Regions from separate parts of the Homo sapiens genome. Here region 1 is linked to region 2. The links come from fine-mapping of genetic effects on gene expression. Tissue or cell type: cerebellum. Region 2 holds a variant in brackets; the other region holds the start of a gene. All regions are shown on one strand. Distances are between the middles of the regions.

The links. PIP is the estimated chance that this variant, and not a neighbour inherited with it, causes the effect.
Region 1: it holds the start of LRRC61, and the variant in region 2 is fine-mapped to the expression of LRRC61 in cerebellum (GTEx, PIP 0.98).

What each region holds. Positions count from the first base shown.
Region 1 is chr7:150,322,132-150,324,810 of GRCh38, reverse strand. It overlaps LRRC61 (leucine rich repeat containing 61), which reads right to left and starts at 1,456. Exons shown (of 3, transcript NM_001142928.2): 1 at 1,251-1,456. ACTR3C (actin related protein 3C) reads left to right here and starts at 1,266. Exons shown (of 8, transcript NM_001164458.2): 1 at 1,266-1,342. RefSeq lists enhancers at 627-696, 2,017-2,076, 2,127-2,236 and a silencer at 1,087-1,406.
Region 2 is chr7:150,047,978-150,050,656 of GRCh38, reverse strand. It overlaps a transcript of ACTR3C not described here. Among named protein-coding and RNA genes, the nearest start is that of ATP6V0E2, 180 kb to the right of the region's middle. RefSeq lists enhancers at 622-1,255, 1,256-1,890. The variant C/T (reference allele first, on the strand shown) is at 1,528.

The sequences.
Region 1 (2,679 bases), 270 kb before region 2:
GGAGGGAAAAGGCTTGGCTCTGTCCCTAAACAGAGAGAAGGTGACCTGGGAAGAGCGGGGAGGCTAACTACACAGGGAAGAGAAGCTTCCTGGAGAAAGGGATCCAGGGCACAGGCGGTGGAAGGGATTGGCCTCAAGAGACCAGGAAGAACTCTCATTTTTCCTGACAGAGAAAGTAGGATGGGTCTGGTAGCAGGCAAGTCCTGGAGTGCTGTGCAGAAGGGAAGTGAGGCAGCTTATGCCTGAGAGCCAGGCATGTTGATTGCTCACGGGGAGCCGTACATCTGTAAAGGCAGCCAGCGGCTGGCTGAGTGATCTGGCTTAGCCTGGGCTGGGAAGCACCTCCGCACACTGGCTCAAGAAATTAGACCTATTCTTCTCGCTGCTCTCACCAAGCCTTTTCCCAAGTGCGTGCCCAGAAGGAAAGCGGCCACTCTTCTACTTCTCTTGTGCCTGCAAGAGAAGTAGAACCCCACCCTGGGCATTCCATGATTATGCCAGGCCTTTCTCACTCCGCCCAGTCCCTCTCCAGCCCCTCTGCTCTCAACTCCAGCACTGCAGGGGGACAGAGTGTCTACTCCACCCCCACCAGGCAGGGGATTTTAAGCACCTGCTGGGCCCTCAAGTCTCATCTTCCTCCACAACATCTGTGAGAAGATTGAAAGGTGGTGAGAGAAAGGGATAGGAGGAGATGAACGTGTGAAAGGAAAAGAGGAGAGCAAGCCATTGCATGTTTTGGGGTTTTGTCCCACACGCAAATTTGACTACTTATAAAGTCTAAGCAAGATGTTTTAAATAATAATCATGCATCATTAGGTTTCATACTGTGCAAAAAAAATGACACAAAGTGAGATCTGTTACAAACGACACGGCAGCACTCTGCTACTTTCTGGAAGCTTAGGGCTAACAATGGAGTCAGAGCATGGCATCCAGAGCCCGTCTCTGAGCACGGCCGTGATCCTGCTCCAGCACACGCCTCGGTTTCCTCGTCTACATTACGGGAATAGTAACAGCACCCGCCTCATGAGATTGTTAGTGTTAAACGAGTTAATTAATACCACAGTATTTCAGGGCAGTTCTCGGCACAGAGGGAGAGATGGGTAAGGGCTGGCTGTTCCGGAAGATTCTGGCCTCTCCCAGTGTGTTTCGGCGCGAGGGCACCGCTGGCCCAGCAGGTGGCCCCCCGGGGCCGGCACGGGCCCCGACAGCCGCCCCCTTCCCTGAACCTCGGCGGCCCAGTCCCCGCTTACCTGAGGGGTGGAGCCGGCAGCCTGCGGAGCCACTGGCCAAGCTGGGAAGTCCGGCGCAACTCCGCACCGCAGAGCCGGCGCCTCCTCGGCAGGTAAGAGCCGCAGCCCCGCCGCCCGCCGCCTGGCGGCCCCTGACCCCTGGGCCGCGTGCCCACCACCCAACTTGTTGGCCAGCGTGCTTCTCCCAGCGCCGCAGGCCTGAGCTCCCGGAACGCGCCCAGGGGGCCTGGCCAAAGGCCGTAGTGGGCGCTCTGGATTCCGGGATGCGCCAGGGGTTACTTCCGGAAGCGCAGCCTGCGGGGGTCTTCGCGCGCACCCCCCGCCTCGCAGTTGGTACGTTCCTCCTACCTGCGGTGCCTGAGTGCGCAGGCGTGGGCAGCGAGGCGGTGCGGCCGGAAGCGAAGGGGCCGTGAGGTCAACAGTCGGTAATCGTTTATCGGTGCGGCCTTAGAGAAAGGACCTCCAAGCCCTTGTTCAATACATGTTGGGTGGTGGTCACAGGTGCCAGTCTCCGGACGGATGGCGGCCTAGATTTCCTCCCGGACTCGGTGGCACCCAAGGCCCCCTGCACGCCGGCGCTGTGCGTGCCAGGCTGACCGCCCGAGTGCGACCCGGACCTCGTCCGCACGTGCAGATGGAAGGGGCCACAAAGACGATAAGGATCCAGGTCTCCCGCGTGGAAGGCTCATCTATCGGTCGGTTCAGGAAATCCACCCAGGGTGTCTCCTGGTGTTATCAGAAAGGGGTCCCGATCCAGGCCCTAAGAGAGGGTTCTTGGATCTCATGCAAGAAAGAATTCAGGGCAAGCCCATAGAGTAAAGTGAAAACAAGTTTATTAAGAAAGCAAAGAAGTAAAAGGATGGCTACTCCATAGGCAGAGCAGCTCCAGGGCTACTGGTTACCCATTTTTTGGTTATTTCTTGATTATATGCTAAACAAGGGTTGAATTATTCATGAGTTTCAGAGAAAGGGGTGGGCAGTTCCCGGAACTGAGGCTTCCTCCCCTTTTTAGACCATATAGAGTATTTCATGATGGTGTCATGGCGTCTGTAAACTGTCATGGTGCTTGCTGGTGGGAGTGTCTTTTAGCATGCTAATGCATTATAATTAGTGCATAATGAGCAGTGAGGACCACCAGAGGTCCCTCCCATTGCCATATTGGTTTTGGTGGCGTTTAGCCAGCTTCTTTACTGCAACCTGTTTTATCAGCAAGGTCTGTATGACCTGTATCTTGTGCCAACCTTCTGTCTCATCCTGTGACTTAGAATGCCTAACCTCCTATGAATGCAGCCTCATTTTACCCAGCCCTTATTCAAGATGGAGTAATTCTGGCTTAAACACCTCTGACACTGGGGCAAATGCCTGCTGCCTGATGACTCCCACAAGTCCTTAACACCTAACCCAGAGAACATCTGGGCCTGCATCCACT
Region 2 (2,679 bases):
CTTTCACACCTGCATCTTTCAGACGCTCGCTCTTTCCTGCCCTCCTCCCCTGCCCTCCGTTTCTTCTGCTTAATTGTGAGATTTGCTTCCCAGCACAAATTTTTATTTCAACTCTTTCCCCTGTTGCTTATGAGTTTTATGGTGATTTCATTTTATAATTTTAAGCAGAAATCGCTTATCATATTTTCTTAGATAATTTGAGATTTTAAACTTTGGTTAGATTATAGTTACCTACAATGCTTTGAGAATATAATTTTTAAAAGTGGCACATATGCTTTATCCCAATAGTATTCTATGATTAATATGCACACATCTATGAAGTATCATGTATGATACATAAACTATTCTGCATAAGTATTGTATTTTGTATAAACTATATTAGTATGACATTTAGTTTGTGTAAAAATATGCATGCATATTTCATAGATAGCATATGTATATTACATAAGTGGGACCCTAACTGCATCTATATTTAGTGAAATGTCAGGATCGCGATGCTGCGGTGAATAGCATGAGCTTTCTTTCATGTCCATGTTAGGAGAGGCAGCTTCCTCCCATCAAAAGCACAGCTGGGGCAGAGGAGGGGGTTGAGAGCAAGGTTTTCTATCTATCTAATTGTGGTGACTTTTAAAGTTTAGTTTTATGGCTCTGTTGCCTCTGTCTTCAAAGTCAAATGGAGCAGCTGAAGCTCTCCCCACCCCAGACCCACCTGCCTGGCCTCTCCCATGCAGCAAGTTTTGCTTAGCTGTTGCAATCCTGGTTTTACTTGGTTTTGTATTTGCTATTTTTTTAAAGTGTTTTTAAACTCATGTTTCTTCATAGTAAAGGGTAACTACTGTGGAGTAAACAGAAGATGAGCGTGGTACAAATTTTGGTTAAACCAAAAACTACACACTGGATTGAAAGCTTGGGGAAGGGAGGCAGGTGGAAGGGACTGAAGGGAGGTCTCTTCCCAGGAGACTTGTTCACCGGCATCCAGTATTCTCCCCCGCAGTTAGGGAAACAGAGGGAGCATGCAGTTTCAGGCCCAGGCAGGCCTCTCTCTGGGCTTGGGGCAATGCCAAGGCTGGGGGCGAGCCTGCAGTCAGCCTTGTGCGTGGCGGCCGAGCCTGTTATTTTGAAACCCTAAGTGGAAACAGGCATGGAAACCCGGAAGGAGCAGGGAGCCTTAGCAGTCCTGGGAGATGAAGCCAACGACCTACCTCCATGTGGAAGGAGGCGGCGGAATGGGCAGGGGCGGGTCTCACAGGTTCCCCCCTCTGGAGTTGGGGTTTCCCGGCCCACGTTCGCTCTCTGGATGTGATAGGTCCTTCCCGGCCGGGAAGGGCTGGAAGGGGCGCGCAAGGAGGACGTGGGGACGAGACGAGAGAGACGCGTGCCCAGCAACTCCAGAAGGACGGAGAAGAGTGCAGGAGGGAGCCGGGGAGGACGCGGGAGGGCCGGGAGGGGAAGAGAAGCCAGGCCGGGCCTGGAGCGGAGGAGCGGAGCCCGCTGGTGCGGGTGTCCACACAGGGGCGCTGGAGCGCG[C/T]CTTCCTGCGGCTGGGCAGGAGGCAAGCCCGAGAGCGCGCGGCGAGTGGAGCCATGTCGCCCTCCCTCGCTCTCGGCGGGCACAGTGAGGCGCAGGCTTTGGAAAAGTTGCGGGCAGCCGGAGAGCCGAGCCTCCGCCTGCGTTCATGATAATGAGAATGGAGTCACGGTCACAGCCGGGCTCTCTGCGGGGCGCAGCGCCCGCGAGGGGCGCCTGGGCCTCTGGGCGTCCTCTGCCGCCCCGCGACCTTTCCTGCTCTCCTCCGGAGAGAGGCGAAGGGAAGGGGCGGTTTCGGAGGGAGCTGGGCTGTGGAGGGAGGGCGGCCTCCTCACCAGCGTCGTCCGACCACCCCGCGCCCTCCTGGTGGCTCTCCCACGCCCCATTTGCACCCCAGGTCCTCGGGGTGTCTCTGGTGTTGCTTCAAGTTAGGCAAGAAGAGCTGGGGGCGCGGGGAGCCCGGCGCCGCAGCGCGTGCGTGGCTGGGGCGCCCCGGGGCCGGCTGCACCTTCAGTCGCCCCCTGGCCGGCCTGCCTGCCTCGACCTCCGCATCCCCTTGCACCGTCCGCTCGCGTGCTGCGGGGCACGCGCAGCACTACCTTCGGCGGGGCCGCAGAACCCTCAGCTCCCGGGACTCCCCCACCGCCCCCGCACCCACGACCCGCGTGGTCCCCGCCCCTCCACCCTCTTCACGCACCCTCGCACCCTTTTTGTGCGACCCCGTGCCCTCTCCGGGCTGCCAACCCCTGCCACCCAGGCGCCAGTCCCGGGCGCGGGGAGGAGGCCGGTGGGGAAGGGGGCGGAGGGGCCGGGGTGGAGGAGGAGCTGCGCGAGGGGCCTGGGGGCGGGGAGCGAGGAGAGCGCTCGGAATGTGTGCGGGTTTCTAGGTGGTGCCAAATTCTGGGGCCTAGGCATTTCCCTCGCTTTATGTTTTTGGTTTTTTTTCTTCCTTCAATCTCTTTGATTAGGCCGTACGTGGCTGTGGCAAGGAGTTGGGGAAAAAAATTATAAAAACAGGAAAGAGAGAAAGAACAGCCAGAGCCCCGGCTTCGCGAGCCGCCGGGGAGGGGGCGGAGGAGGCTGAGCCAGGTAGAGTCGCCAGCGGAGACTCGCGAGTGGCGCGCGGGAGGAGCGGTCGCCGGCGCTGGGCTTGCC